Linked DNA regions of Homo sapiens: region 1 is linked to region 2. A link means that fine-mapping ties the variant in region 2 to the expression of a gene that starts in the linked region. Tissue or cell type: whole blood. Region 2 holds a variant in brackets; the other region holds the start of a gene. All regions are shown on one strand. Distances are from middle to middle.

The links. PIP is the estimated chance that this variant, and not a neighbour inherited with it, causes the effect.
Region 1: it holds the start of PSMD4, and the variant in region 2 is fine-mapped to the expression of PSMD4 in whole blood (TOPMed, PIP above 0.99).

What each region holds. Positions count from the first base shown.
Region 1 is chr1:151,250,475-151,258,569 of GRCh38, forward strand. It overlaps PSMD4 (proteasome 26S subunit ubiquitin receptor, non-ATPase 4), which reads left to right and starts at 4,260. Exons shown (of 10, transcript NM_002810.4): 1 at 4,260-4,334. The coding sequence starts at 4,309. RefSeq lists an enhancer at 4,152-4,341 and a silencer at 4,382-4,521.
Region 2 is chr1:151,296,362-151,304,465 of GRCh38, forward strand. It overlaps PI4KB (phosphatidylinositol 4-kinase beta), which reads right to left. Exons shown (of 12, transcript NM_001369623.2): 6 at 7,180-7,289; 7 at 5,833-5,937; 8 at 5,483-5,606; 9 at 2,447-2,712. It also overlaps the pseudogene RN7SL444P. Among named protein-coding and RNA genes, the nearest start is that of ZNF687, 18 kb to the left of the region's middle. RefSeq lists an enhancer at 1-144. The variant C/G (reference allele first, on the strand shown) is at 4,889.

The sequences.
Region 1 (8,095 bases), 46 kb before region 2:
ATAATTGTCCTTCAAAAGTTTCTAGTTTCCAGGAGGAACACAAATCACAAAAACAATATGTTATATGTGAGACAGCTACTTAAGCTCTCTGAAGGTGGCACAGAACATAAAAGGGGGAAAAATTAGCAGTTACGTGCGAAAGAAGTGTTAAGAGAATGTTTCACTTCAGCACAAGGACCTAGATGCATGAGAATGGTCTGTTTTTGAGAACAAGGAAGAGATCATGATGAGAATATTGGAATAAGTATAGTTAGAGGCAATATTGGGAACCCTGAAATATTTTTTGCCCCAATAGGATGTGATACAAAATAATTGAGAGACTAACAAAGTTCCATCAGAATTAAACAGAGGATTGGCCAAGTCCAGTGGCTCACACCTGTAATCCCAGCACTTTGGGAGGCCAAGATGGGTGGATCACTTGAGGCCAGGAGTTCAAGAGCAGCCTGGCCAACAATGCGAAACACCATCTCTACTAAAAATACAAAAATTAGGCCAGGCGCGGTGGCTCACGCTCGTAATCCCGGCACTTTGGGATGACGAGGCGAGCAGATCATCTGAGGTTGGGAGTTCGACCAACAGGGAGAACCAGCATGACCAACATGGAGAAAACCCATCTTTACTAAAAATACAAAAAATTAGCTGGGCGTGGTGGGTGCACGCCTGTAATCCCAGCTACTTGGGATGCTGAGGCAAGACAATCGCTTGAACCTGAGAGGCAGAGGTTGCGGTGAGCCAAGATCGAGCCCTTGCACTCCAGCCTGGGCAGCAAGAGTGAAACTCCTTCTCAAAAAAAAAAAAAAAAAAAAAAAATTAACCGGGCATGGTGGCGGGCGCCTGTAATCCCAGCTACTCGGGAGGCTGAGACAGGAGAATCGCTTGAACCCAGGAGGCAGAGGTTGCAGTGAGCTGAGATTGCACCATTCATTGCACTCCACCCTGGCAACAGAGTGACACTCCATCTCAAAAAAAAAAAAAAAAAAAAAAAGAAGAAAGAAAAAGCAAGTACTTGGATTGGAAGAGGAATGGGGGATTCTCAAAGTTTCTTTTCATTTTTCTTTTCTTTTTCTTTCTTTCTTTCTTTTTTTTTTTTTTTTTTTTGAGACAGATTTCACCATGTTGGCCAGGCTGGTCTCAAACTCCTAGCCTCAAGTGATCCGCTCACCTCGGCCTCCCAAAGTGCTGGGATTACAGGCGTGAGCCACTGCATTCGGCCCAGATTCTCAAAGTTTTGAATTTGATTTTCCCACAGCCCCAGCCAGTCCTCCTTTTGTCTGGATAAGGAGAAAACTTTTTTCCCTAATAGGAATTGGAGGTTAACATGTTTTAGGCATAAATGTTCTGCATCCCTGACCTTGTCACTCAGAGTGTACTCAAAACTACTGAATGGGTGGTGTAGATAATCCTCTTATGATCAGAGGGTCCCTCTAGCGGTGAGCAGCGACTAGTGCTTATTCTCTAGCTATATGCTCTAATTTATATTCAGATACAAGTAGGGTCTATTAGTGTAAAACTTCTAACTAAAAGAGAAATTAAAATCATAGGATAATAAAGTTGGAAATCGTCATCTGGTCTGATATTTTACCCTTAAGCATGTCAATCTCAGCTATTCTGAGATGTATTCAGAGATGAAGTCTCATTCTTTATTAGTTTTGTTTTTCTTTTTTTGAGACGGAGTTTCACTCTTGTCGCGCAGGTTGGAGTACAATAGCACGATCTCGGCTCACTGCAACCTTTTCCTCCCGGATTCAAGTGATTCTCCTGCCTCAGCCTCCAGAGTAGCTGGGACTATAGGCACCCACCACAATGCCCGGCTAATTTTTGTATCTTTAGTAGGATGGGATTTCACCATGTTGGCCAAGATGTTCTCGATCTCCTGAACTTATGATCCGTCCGCCTCGGCCTCCCAAAGTGCTGAGATTTCCCAGCCTTGGTTTTCTTTTTTAGTCTTGCTCTGTTACCCAGAGCAATCTCAGCTCACTCTAGCCTTGACTTTCTGGGCTCAGGCGACTTTCCTACCTCAGTCTCTCAAGTAGCTGGGACTACAGGCTGGCACCATCACAATCAGCTAATTTTTGTATTTTTTTGTAGCGACGGGGGTATCCAGGCTGGTCTCGGACTCCCAACCTCAAGTGATCTGCCCACCTCGGCCTCTCAGTGCTGGGATTACAGGCGTGAGCCACCGTGCCCAGCTGGCCTTCTTTTTTTCATTATGGGAATTTCCAAACCAAAAGTAGAGTAGTATGGTGAACCACTATGTACACATAACCCAGCCTCAATAATTATCAACATAAATAAGACCAGCGTGGCCGGGTGCAGTGGCTCAAGCCTGTAATCCCAGTTTTCGGAGGCTGAGATGGGAGGCCAGGAGTTAGAGGTTGCAGTGAGCTATGTATGATTGCACCACTGCTGCACTCCAGCCCAGTGAGACCTTGTCTCTTTTGTTTTACTTTGAGACCCTGTCTCAAAAAACAAAACTATTTGTTTCTTCCAGAGGATTAAGTTAAATCCCAAACTTCATATACTTTTTTTATCTATGAATACAACATATAACCCTTAATAAAGCCTACTTTTATAAGGGTGATAACTTTAACACTATTATCATGCCTAAAAAAATTGCTTAATATCAAATATCCAGCTGATGTGATGGCTCACGCCTGTAATCCCAACACTTTGAGACTTTTTTTTTTTCAGAGATGGGGTCTGGCTATGTTGCCTACGCTGGTCTCGAACTCATGCGCTCAAGCCATCCTCCCACATCAAAAAATTAAAAACAAATTAGCTGGGCTTGGTGGCATGCACCTATAGCCCCAGCTACTCAGGAGGCTGAGGCAGGAGGATGGCTTGAACCCGGGAGGTGGAGATTGCAGTGAGCCGAGATCAGGCCACTGCACTCCAATCTGGGCAACAGAGCGACACCCTGTCTCAAACAATAAAACTTTGTAGAGACGGAGTCTGGCTGTGTTGTCCAGGCTGGTCTCAGACTCCTAGCCTGAGTTGATCCTCCTGCCTGGGCCTCCCAAAACGCTGGGATTATAAAACCTAAGCCATTGCATCAGGCCTTGAATGTAATTTTTGATTAACCAAAACGGTTTAGTGGTTTGTTCTTTGGCAGATTAGTTAATATAATTGAGTTGTCAAATCTTTTCCGGGCTCTGTACTGGGCTTAGGGAATTGTAAAGATTAAGACACGTTGCCGGCCAGGTGTGGTGGCTCACGCCTGTAATCCCAGCACTTTGGGAAGCTGAGGTGGGTGGATCATCTGAGGTCAGGAAATCGAGACCAGCCTGGCCAACATGGTGAAACCTCGTCTCTACTAAAAATACAAAATTAGCCGGGCATGGTGGAATGCCCCTGTAGTCCCAGCTACCTGGGAGGCTGAGGCAGGAGAATCCCTGGAACCCAGGAGGTGGAGGTTGCAGTGAGCCGAGATCGAGCCACTGCACTCTAGCCTGGGTGAAAGAGCGAGACTCCTCCGTCTCAAAAAAAAAAAAAAAAAAAAAAAAAAAAAAAAAAAAAAAGGCACGTTGCCCACCCTTAGTTAAACGAGGGAGGAGATAAATATACAAATAAATTCAATTGAAGGGTATAAGGGCTTGTTGAATTAAAATTCTACAGGGAACTGAGGGCTGTAGAAAGTCATTAGCGATCCCGACACTTTTTTTTTTCTTTTTTTGAGACGGAGTCTCACTCTGTCCCCCAGGCTGGAGTGCAGTGGCGCGATCTCGGCTCACTGCAATCTCTGCCTCCCGGGTTCAAGTAATTCTCCTGCCTCAGCCTCCCGAGTAGCGGGGATTACAGGCGTGCGCCACCATGCCCGGCTAATTTTTTGTATTTTTAGTAGAGACAGGGTTTCACCATGCTGGCCAGGCTGGTCTCGAACTCCTGACCTCGTGATCCGCCCGCCTTGGCCTCCCAAAGTGCTGGGCTAACAGGCGTGAGCCACCGCGCTCGGCCGATCCCGACACTTTTTTAAAATGCCGAAGCCGGAATCGACACAGCACTTTCAAAGGTTCCTCCATAGCTCCCCTGAGATCCGGCCAGCGGGAAACCCCAACTGAGAACTGCAATGGCAGGGAAAGTGGAGGCTAGATCCTGTTTTTTGTGTTACCGCGATTCCCTTCAACTACCCTCAAGACGCCTACAAATTTGTTTGGCGGCACCTACAACTCCCAGAACGCAACGTGGGGGACGGAGGCGGAAGCAGCTGGCCAAGCCGAGGTCTGTGATTGGTGAAGAGCGACGGGCCAATTGGAGGAGTTGTTGTTAGGCCGTCCCGGAGACCCGGTCGGGAGGGAGGAAGGTGGCAAGATGGTGTTGGAAAGCACTATGGTGTGGTGAGGAGCTACTTCGGGGCAGGAGGGGCAGAGCTGGGTTCCGGGCGCGTGTAGCGCCAAGGCAGGGAGGGCCTGGGGTGGGGGCCAGGGGCTCATGGGCGAGAGGCGGCCCTGGCCCCGGAGGTAAGGAGCCCGCTGGACTCCCTGAGTCATCCCGGGGCCCTGGAGTGGCGGATAGTCCCGGGTTACCACTGTTACCCCCAGGGGGACGGTCATTGACTGGTCATTCCTGCTTCCTTTCTCTGTTCTAGCGCCGTCTTCTCTAGAGCAGCCCGGGTCTGTCTTTAGCTACAGTTCTGCTTTTCGGACTCATCGTAATAGTTTTCTGCCCTCCTTTCTTTGCAAAATAACGTCTATTAGGAAAATAGATTATTAATCCCTTCCTCTCCCCATTCCCTCGTCTCTAACTTCATTACCTTTCCCTGTATCATCTTCAAAGGTACCATTTACAGATTGCTTTTTATGTATCAGTCATTTTGTTTATCTCACTTATACCTCACAACCACACCTTAAGGTAAATTATCTCTCCATTTTACGGTTCAGGATACCGAGTCTCAGCGATTTTAAGTGATTTGTCCAAAATCATACAGCTAGTTAAGTGGTGGAGTCAAGATTTAAACCCACGGCTGTCTGACACAAAGGCTTTATCCGGTGAGGTAGCTCTCTTTGTCAGTTTCAGGCTTGGGCTGAGTACCTATTACGAGTCACATTAGAAGAGGAGGACATAAATTTTTGCAGGGTTTCAAGAGTTCCTTCTAAGTGTAATCACTGAATGTAATACAGAATAGTTGACGAACACAAATCACCGATTGGGTGAAACAGGCACCTATGAGATTTCTTCTTTTTATTTTCTCGGGGGAGCATAGCATTGCCAGATAACATACAGGATGCCCAGTGAAATTTGAGTTTCAGATAAACGATGAATAATTTTTTTTTGAGACGGTCTCGCTCTGTCTCCCGGACTGGAGTGCAGTGGCCCAGTCTGGCTCACTGCAGCCTCCGCCTCCCTGGTTCAAGTGATTCCCAGTGATTGAACTAATTTACACTTGCACCAACGATAGAACAGTGTTCTCTTTTCTCGCAACCTTGCCAGCATCTGTTATTTTTTTAGTTTTTAGTAATAGCCATTCTGACTGGTGTTAGGTGGTATCTCGTTGTGGTTTTGATTTATTTGCATTTCTCTAATGATCAGTGATATTGAGGTTTTTTTAATAGGCTTGTTGGCTGTATGTATATCGTCTTTTGAAAAGTGTCTGGCTGGGGCGTGGCTCAGGCCTGTAATCCCAGCACTTTGGAAGGCTGAAGTGGGTGTATCACCTGAGGTCAGGAGTTACTGACCAGCCTGGCCAACATGGTGAAACCCCATCTCTACTAAAAATACAAAAATTAGCCAGGCGTGGTGGTGGACGCCTGTAGTCCCAGCTACTCCAGAGGCTGAGGTGGGAGAATCGTTTGAACCCCGGAGGTGGAGGTTGCAGTGAGCCGAGATGGCGCCACTGCACTCTAGCCTGGGCGACAGAGTGAGACTCCCTCTCAAAAAAAAAAAAATAATAATAAAATAAATAAATAAATAAATAAATAAATAAAAATAAAGTGTCTGATGTCTGTTCATGTCCTTTGCCCACTTTTTTTTTTTTTTTTCTCTTTGAGAAGGAGTTTTGCTCTTGTTGCCCAGGTTGGAGTACAGTGGCGCCATCTCAGCTCACTGCAACCTCCGCCTCCCTGGTTCAAGTGATTCTCCTGCCTCAGCCTCCTGAGTAACTGGGATTACAGGTGCCCGCCACCACGCCCAGCTTTTTTGTATTTTTGGTAGAGACGGGGTTTCATCATGTTGGCCAGGCTAGTCTCAAACTGCTGAGCTCAGGTGATCCACCCGCCTCAGCCTCCCAAAGTGCAGGGATTACAGGCGTTGAGCCACTGTGCCCGGCTCCTTTGCCCACTTTTTTTTTTTTTCGCTCTTATTGCCCAGGCTGGAGTGCAATGACACAATCTCAGCTCCCCGCAACCTTCGGCTCACCGCAACCTCCGCCTCCCGTGTTCAAGCGATTCTCCTGCCTCAGCCTCCTTAGTAGCTGGGATTACAGGCATGCGCCACCACGCCCAGCTAATTTTGTGTTTTTAGTAGAGACCAGGTTTCTCCATGTTGGTCAGGCTGGTCTCGAACTCCCACCCTCAGGTGATCCGCCCGCCTCAGCCTCCCAAAGTGCTGGCATTATAGGCGTGAGCCACTGTGCCCGGCCGGTCTTCCAGGATTTTTATAGTTTTGGGTTTTACCTTGTCTTTAATCCATCTTCAGTTAATTTTTGTGTATGGTATAAGAAAGGAGTCCAGCTTCAATCTTCTGCATATGGCTAGCCTAGCCAGTATCCCCAGTTATTGAATAGGGACTCTTTTTCCTCACTGCTTGTTTTGTCAGCTTTGTCAAAGAATAGATGGTCATAGGTGTGCGGCTTTATTTCTAGACTCTCTATTCTGTCCCATTGGTCTCTGTGCCTGTTTTTGTACCAGTGCCATGCGGTTTTGGTTATTGTAGCCCTAAGTAATAGTTTGAAGTTGGGTAAAGTTGCCTCCAGCTTTGTTCTTTTAGCTTAGGATTGCCTTGGCTTTTCTGGCTCTTTGTTGGTTCCATATGAATTTTCAAATAGTTTTTTCTAGTTCTTTGAAGAATGTTTTTGGTAGTTTGATAGGAGTAGCATTGAATCTGTAAATTGCTGTGGGAAGAATGGCCAATTTTAATTAATTAATTAATTAATTTATGAGACAGAGTCTTGCTCTGTCTCCCAGGCTGGAGTGCAGTGGTGTGATCTCGGCTCATTGCAACCTCCGCCTCTCAGGTTCAAGTGATTATTGTGCCTCAGCCTTCTGAGTAGCTGGGATTCCAGGCACCCGCCACCATACCTGGCTTTCTTTTTTTTTTTTTTTTTTTTTTGTATTTTTAGTAAAGATGGGGTTTGGCCATGTGGCCAGGCTGGTCTTGAACTCCTGGCCTCAAGTGATCTGCCCACCTCAGCCTCCCAAAGTGCTGGAATTACAGGTGTGAGCCACCATGCTCGGCAGTATGGCCATTTTAATGATATTGATTCTTCCTATTCATGAGCATGAGATGTTTTTCCACTTGTTTATATCTTCTTTGATTTATTTGAGCGGTATTTTGTAATTCTCATTGTAGAGCTCTTTCATCTCCCTGGTTAGTTGTATTCCTAGGTTTGTTTGTCTATTTGTTTGTTTTTTTGAGATGGAGTCTCGCTTTTGTTGCCCAGGCTGGAGTGCAGTGGCGCCATCTCGGCTCACTGCAACCTCCACCTCCCGGGTTCAAATGATTCTCCTGTCTCAGCCTCCCGAGTAGCTGGGATTACAGGTGCGTGCCACCATGCCCGGGTAATTTTTTTCTGTATTTTTAGTAGAGATGAGGTTTCATCATATTGGTCAGGCTGGTCTCGAACACTTGACCTCAGGTGATCCACCAGCCTCAGCCTCCCAAAGTGCTGAGATTACAGGCATGAGCCACAACACCCAGCCAAGGTATTTTATTCTTTTTGTGGCAGTATGCACATAGTTCTTGGCCCCATGTAGTGCATCATGGGGAACCTGCTGTTGATGTGACTGCCTTGCACATGTGCCATTGTATTACCCTTTTCGAGTGTTTTTTTTTTTTTTTTTTTTTTTGGGGGAGACAGGGTCTCATTCTGTCACCCAGGCTGGAGTGCAGTAGTGTGATCTTGGCTCACTGCAGCCTCGACCTCCGGGGCTCAAGTGATCCT
Region 2 (8,104 bases):
AAGCTACCTGACTGTTATTTCCCTCATGAGGAAACACGTGTCTGACAGGGTTTTCATCTGGTTTAAATATAAGAATGTCAGGCCATGGCAGAACTTAATAGATGCTAGATTTCTTTTTTTTTTTTTTGAGATGAAGTCTCACTCTGTCACCCAGGCTGGTGTGCAATGGTGCGATCTTGGCTCACTGCAACTTCTGCCTCCTGGGTTCAAGTGATTCTCCTGCCTCAGCCTCCCAAGTAGCTGGGAATACAGGCGCCCGCCACCACACCCAGCTAATTTTTTATTTTTAGTAGAGATGGGGTTTCACCGTGTTGGTCATGCTGGTCTCAAACTCCTGACCTCAGGCGATTTGCCCACCTCGGCCTCCCAAAGTGCTGGGATTACAGGCGTGAGCCACCACACCCAGCCTAAGACTAATTTTTATTTTTTTTTTTGAGATGGAGTCTCAGTGTCACCCAGGCTGGTGTGCAGTCGCGCGATCTCATCTCACTGCAACCTCCACCTCCCGGGTTCCAGCAATTGTCCTGCCTCAGCCTCCTGAGTGGCTGGGATTACAGGCATGCGCCACCACGCCTGGTGAATTTTTGGTATTTTTAGTAGATATGGGGTTTTGCCATGTTGGTCAGGCTGGTCTTGAACTACTGACCTCAGGTGATTCACCTGCCTCAGGCTCCCAAAGTGTTGGGATTACAGGCGTGAGCCACTGCATCCAGCCTAGATGCTACATTTCTAATAAGCTGCTCTGTTAGCTAGCTAGCTAGCTAGTTGTTTTGTTTTGTTTAGACAGGGTCTCACTCTGTTGCCCTTAACCTCCTGCTCAAGTGATCCTCCCACCTCAGCCTCCAAAGTAGCTGGGACCACAGCTGTATACCACCATGCTTGGCTAATTTTTATTTTTTGTAGAGACGGGATCTAACTATGTTGCCTAGGCTAGTCTCGAACTCCTGGGCTCAAGCGATCCTCCTGCCTCGGCCTTGTTGGCTAGATTTTTTTTTTTTTTTTTTGAGACTCGCTTTGTTGCCCAGACTAAAGTACTGTGGCATGATCTTGGCTCACTGCAATCTCCACCTCCTGGGTTCAAGCAATTCTCCTGCCTTACCTCCCGAGTAGCTGGGATTACAGGTGTGCATCACCAAGCCCAGCTAATGTATGTATGTATGTGTATGTATATATATAAATTTTTTTTTTTTTTTGAGTTGGAATTTCACCCTTGTCGTCCAGTCTGGAGTGCAATGGTGCCATCTTGGCCCACTGCAACCTCTGCCTCCCGGGTTCAAGTGATTCTCCTGCTCAGCCTCCCAAATAGCTGGGATTAGGCGCCTGCCACCAGGCCCAGCTAATTTTCTTTTTGTATTTTAGTAGAGATGGGGTTTCACCATGTTGGCCAGGCTGGTTTCAAACTCCTGACCTCAGGTGATCCACCCGTGTCAGCCTCCCAAAGTACTGGGATTATAGGCATGAGCCACCACACCCAGCCATTATTAGCTAGATCTTAATGGGCCACCATGTTACTGGAAGCCCCAGCAGCACTGGCCATTGCATTTCCACCTTTCCAGGACAGCTGCCCTGTGCCGAGGGTCTAGAGCTGGAACTCATAGGAGCATTCAGGGCAGAGACCCTGGGTCACTGTTGGGAGATACTCTTAGAAGGCAGGGCCTAGATGGTGTAATTATTTTTGTACATTATGTGCCTCACCTATATGTGTAGTTAGTTTTCATCAAGGTCATGTCATATTGAAAAAAAATGACAGCTCTGGGCAAAACAACAGATACTTAAAAGCTGTGGAAATCATATGCTGGAATAAGAAGTGAGGAGAGTTCATGGCTGAGAGTTTCCACTTCATCTCCATCATGTTTCTCCTTTCTGCTCTCAGTCACTAACCACTACCCTTAGTGCCAGGCCCTATTATCTCTTGCTTTGTTGCTAAACACCCAATTACATCCACCTTCACCCACAGTGCCACAGGGCATTTAATCAACACAGACTGGATCATGTCATTCCTCTGCCTGCAAAATAAAACACCTAAGCTTCACAATGAAGGCCCTTCTTCAACTGGCCTCAATTTACCTGCCTCATGGTACCACCTCCTACTCCACTGCCATGCAGTGCAGTCTGTGCTTTAATCACATTCAATTATTTCTTCTAGCTGGGATGTACCTCCCCTGCAGCTTCCTCTGTCATCATTTTCCCTTGTCCTTGAAGACCCTGCTCACTCAAACCCTTAGTCCTCCCATAAATCCTTCATTTCTTTGCCCTTTTACCCTAGTTCTTATTAGTCTGCCTCCTGACTTAATGTCATGGGAACACATCTGTCTCTGCTTAAAATACATTGTTTCATTTTTCACATCTTTGCCATGGAGGGCAGTAATAAGTAATTGAGAACTACACACGAAGGGACAGAGAGAACCCTGGAGAAATGTTAGGATGAGCAGCAGAAGTCACCTACCTGTCCTTGACTTGCAGCAGGTAGCAGACCAAGCAGTACCCAGCACAACTTTGCACAAAATTGCGCTGTGCACTGAGGAATGCCTCAGTGGTGTAACTGCCGTGCTCCTGTAGGAAGTAATCGAGCAAGGAGAGCTGTGACTGTTTCTTCACCTGATGGATGGACACAGCATTGACCACTGGTTCAATCATGCCACTATCAGCCGAAATCACAAGAATCTTGTATGGCTTGATCCAAAGGGGCACTCGCTCCTGTTCCCAAATGGACTGTGAGGAGACATGGAGGATACAGGACTCTTATCTTTCTCCAAACTAGAGAAGAAGGCTAAAACTCTTCCCTTTCTCCAGCCTCTCTCCTTGGTAGCATTGAATTCTAAGCCATCAAATGAGTAAGACTCACTTAACCCAGTGAGGACCAGGGAGTTTGGAAAGGAAGTCTAGGGCCTGACAAAGTCAGAAACTACACTCAGGTATGTGGGAAAAGGTATCACCTAAGTAGAAAGCCCAAGACAGGCAGGGAGAACAGGAAACTTCACTATCCCCTCTCAAGCAGGGAGAATGGGAGCTGTAAGTTCAAATAATAAGAAAAAAGAGGCCAGGTGCGGTGGCTTATGCTTGTAATCCCAGCACTCTGGGAGACCAAGGAGGGCGGATCACCTGAGGTCAGGAGTTCAAGACCAGCCTGGCCAACCTCAGTAGAGAGTGAAACCTCGTCTTTACTAAAAATACAGAAATTAGCCAGGCGTGGTGGTGTATGCCTGTAATCCCAGTTACTCAGGAGGCTAAGGCAGGAGAATCGCTTGAACCCAGGAGGTGGAGGTTGCAGTGAGCCAAGATTGCACCACTGCACTCCAGCCTGGGCGACAGAGCGAGACTCTCTCCGACGAAAAAAAAGAAAAAAGGAAAGGATTTAGGTCCAGAGAAGACTTCTCTGGAAAATGAAAATATTTATATGGTATAAAGAACAGTATTAAACAATTAAGTGGCTTGCAGGTGACCAACCCAGGGGTATCAGAAGATCAATATTTCAGCACACTATAACCTACCTGCTACAGACCAATTTGGGAAGTTTTTATGTTGTTTTTTAAAGGGGGGAGGACCAAATTATTATTATTTAAAAATTTGATTACAACCAATTGTGTTGGCATTAAAATTAGAGGCATTAAGTTTGAATAATGGATATATGCCAAAAACCAAAAATTGAGTTTGGCAAAAACGGGCAAGGAAGTTTTCCAGTAATTTCAGATTAGAAATCAATTTAGAGAAATGAACCCCATGTTTACAATGATTGTGCCACAGATTTAAACTTCAGTAGTGCATTAGTAAACTGTTCACATTTAGATCTTCACCTTGAGATTTGACAGCTATTTCTTGAAAAAATCTCAGTGCCTTGTATAAATAAATTGGTCTTCCATGTGCCTTAGCACACACTTAACACTAGGAAAAGGTGGGTCACTAAACTTTGCCTCCGCAAAATTTTCTTTTTGGCTCACTTCAGTTAGAAATGCTGATTTCTTCAGCCAGGAGCGGTGGCTCATGCCTGTAATTCCAGCACTTTGGGAGGTGGAGGTGGGCGGATCACCTGAGGTCGGGAGTTCGAGACCAGCCTGGCTCACATGGAGAAACCCTATCTCTACTAAAAATACAAAATTAGCCGGGCGTGGTGGCGCATGCCTATAATCCCAGCTACTTGGGAAGGCTGAGGCAGGAGAATCGCTTGAACCTGGGAGGCGGAGGTTGTGGTGAGCCGAGATTGCGCCATTGCACTCCAGCCTGGGAAACAAGAGCAGAACTCCATCTCAAAAAAAATAAAATAAGGAAAAAAAAACGCTGATTTCTTCAAATGCATATTTTTCTCAGAGACAGGGTCTTGCTATGTTGCTCAGGCTGGAGTGCAGTGGCTATTCACAGTCTCGATCCTGTTACTGATGAGCACGGGAGTTCTGACCTGCTCCATTTCCGACCTGGGCCAGTTCACCCCTCCCTTAGGCAACCTGATGGTCCCCTATTCCTAGGAGGTCACCATATTGATGCCGAACTTAGCGCGGACACCCAATTGGCATAGTGGACTGCAGCCCAGAACTCCTGGGCTCAAGACATCCTCCCACCTCAGCCTCCTGACTAGCTGAGACTACAGGCCCATGCCAGGGTGCCAGGACATTTTGGAAGTTTTGATCTAAAAGGCAAACCTAGCACTCTAAAGTTCAGACTTGGAACAGGACAGGTGCAGGTCACAAAAGGGCCAAAAGAGGCCGCTGTGGAGCTGTTCCTATGGCTGTTCTTCCCAGGGGAAAGTTGCACTAGCTTCTCTTTACTCTGCTTTTGTTTTAGACCTTGGCAGGAAGGTGGTCCCCGGCAGAATAATCTGTGTAGTCACCTCCGGTTGGCTGGAGTTGGGCTGAGTTTCCCTTTCTCTCCTTTTTTTTTGAGACAGAGTCTTGCT[C/G]TGTCGCCCAGGCTAGACTGCAGTGGCACAATCTCAGCTCACTGCAACCTCTGCCTCCTGGGTTCAAGCTATTCTCCTGCCTCAGCCTCCCAAGTAGCTGGGATTACAGGTGCCCATCACTGCACCCAGCTAATTTTTGTATTTTTATTTTTATTTTTTTTTTTTTGAGACGGAGTCTCGTTCTGTCGCCCAGGCTGGAGTGCAGTGGTGCAATCTCCGCTCACTGCAAGCTCCGCCTCCCGGGCTCACGCCATTCTCCTGCCTCAGCCTCCGGAGTAGCTGGGACTACAGGCGCCCGCCACCACACCCGGCTAATTTTTTGTATTTTTAGTGGAGACAGGGTTTCACCGTGTTAGCCAGGATGGTCTCGATCTCCTGACCTCGTGATCCACCCGCCTCGGCCTCCCAAAGTGCTGGGATTACAGGCATGAACCACCACACCCGGCCATAATTTTTGTATTTTTAGTAGAGACAGGGTTTCACCATCTTGGCCAGGCTGATCTTGAACTCCCGACTTTGTAATCCACCCGCCTCGGCCTCCCAGAGTGCTGGGATTACAGCCACTGTGCCTGGCCTCTCCTTCTCTTCTCTTACCTGCAGTTGCTTCAACACCTGAAAGGCCAGAAGCTCTTGCCGAAGGTCATCCCCACACTTGACAATGACTGACAGGAGCCGCCAATTGGGGAGATGGCCGTAGGGGGAGCCCTCTCTGATCCGCCTGTGAAGACAGAAGTAAAGGGTGTCAAAGGTTGATGCCAGGGTGAGGACAAGAGACATGGCTTCCACAAAAAATCCCAAGCAAACGCCCCATAGGGCAAGGACCCAGACAGCCTGGAAGCCTGACAGATTTTTTTGGAGGCTGATGGACAATAAAGTTGGTGCAGTGAGCACTTACAACTGCCTCTGAGCTTTGAGAGGGGTTCAGAGACCCACACCCAACTCACCGTACTTTCTCCTGCCAGGGCTCTTTGAGAGCAACTGCAGAAGGATCTTCTGGGTCTCGTTTGAAGGCTGTCGGGGTATGAGCCAGCTGTTCCGAAAGGCGCCGGCTGGCAGGAAGAAAATACATCATTTGCTTGGAGAAGCTACCCCCAAGCCCCATGCCCAGTCTATACTGACATTTCCTGCACTGTCTCCTGGATTCTGGACACACAAAGATAGGAACCCAGGCTGAAAGGGACTCATGGAAGAAAACATAACCAATGACACCTTTTTGCTAACTGATTGTAATCATGTTAAAATTAAGATTACCAGGCCCTCCATATTCCTCTACCAAGGCTGATTCAGAATGGGTGTGTCTCTAGAATTTGCATTTTTCTTTTCTTTTCTTTTTTTTTTTTTTTTTGAGATAAGAATCTCGCTGTGTCTCCCAGGCTGGAGTGCAGTGGCGAGATCTCGGCTCACTGCAAGCTCCGCCTCCTGGGTCCACGCCATTCTCCTGCCTCAGCCTCCCGAGTAGCTGGGACTACAGGCGCCCACCACCACGCCCAGCTAATTTTTTTTTTGTATTTTTTTGGTAGAGATGGGGTTTCATCGTGTTAGCCAGGATGGTCTCGATCTCCTGACCTTATGATCTACCCGCCTCAGCCTCCCAAAGTGTTGGGATTACAGGCGTGAGCCACCGCACCCAGCCTAGAATCTGCATTTTCAACAAGTCCTCCTTCCTCCCCCTGGATTCTGACACAGTCGCTTTGAGACCCCACCTTGAGACACACTGCTCAAACTCCTTCCTCTGGTGCTTTCTTGTTTTTTTTTTTTTTTTTTTTTGAGACGGAGTCTCGTTCTGTCGCCCAGGCTGGAGTGCAGTGGTGCGATCTCGGCTCACTGCAAGCTCCGCCTCCCGGGTTCACGTCATTCTCCTGCCTCAGCCTCCCAAGTAGCTGGGACTACAGGCATCCGCCACCACGCCTGGCTAATTTTTTTGTATTTTTAATAGAGACGGAGTTTCACCGTGTTAGCCAGGATGGTCTCGATCTCCTGACCTCGTGATCTGCCCGCCTCGGCCTCCCAAAGTGATGGGGTTACAGGTGTGAGCCACTATGCCCGGCCCCTCTGGTGCTTTCATCCCTTTGGAGTCTTTTTAAAATTTAATTTCCTTCTTTGGTAGCCCAAGTAATTTCTCAACCTACACCTTCATTGCCTCAAGTTTGGTGGCCCCAAACAAGGACAGAATGAAAGAGGGAAAGACACAGGCCAACAACAGATGATTGAGATGGAGAGGAAGGTAACAAAGAGATGGGAAGTTCCTGAAAGAGGGATGAAAAATGAGGGGCAATGTGATCTGGCCATACCGGATGTCCCCTGCTGCAATGAACACAGGCTCCTTGCTCTCCTGGCTGGTGATGCTGTCCACAGAGAACTGGGAGATGTTGTCACAGCTGTTGGTATGCACTTCGGGGAGCTGGAGAAAGGGGAGTGCTGGTCAGAAGTGCTAAAGTATAGGTCTCCCGTCTTTCCCCTCCTGCTTGCTTGCTATCACTGCAGCATGCTCATCCCTCTCTTTCAAACTCTGCTTACACACCATGTTGGTTACTGGGACCCCAGGCTGCCCAGAGCAGCATTTCTCAACATGTGAACTACCTGCAGTAGAATTACCCAGAATGCAGATTCCCAGGCCCCACCATCAATCTGAATTATAATTACTAGGAATGGGATCTGAAAGTCTGAATTTTTAACAAGTTCTCCAGAAGACTTCCAATGCACTAAAGTTTGCAAACCACTGCCATGACCATTACAGGAGCTCAAAATTTCAGCCTCACTGAGAGTCCCCCAAGGATAGGGATGCGTTCTCCCCTAGGGTCCAAAGCAGACTCTTTGCAGACTAGCTTCTGACAGTTTCTTCAATCTAAGTCATTCAATCTTATCTTCTCATCTCTCTCTAAATACAGAATATTCTACCAGACCCCAAGGCCCATGTCAAGTCTCTTCTGTCCTTCATACCAGAGCATTTCTTCTCAACTCCATTTGTCACCTAGTACACACTGCTTTGTTGTATATCTAAATTTTTTTTTCTTAAATGTCTAATTTCTGCAATTGGACTATAAGCTCAAAGACAGAGATTCTGCCTTTTGGCAAAGTGAAACCTGGCTGTGTGTTTTTTTTTTTTTTTTTTAGACGGAGTTTCGCTCTTGTTGCCCACGCTGGAGTGCAATGGTGTGATCTCGGCTCACTGCGACCTCCGCCTCCCAGGTTCAAGCGATTCTCCTGCCTCAGCCT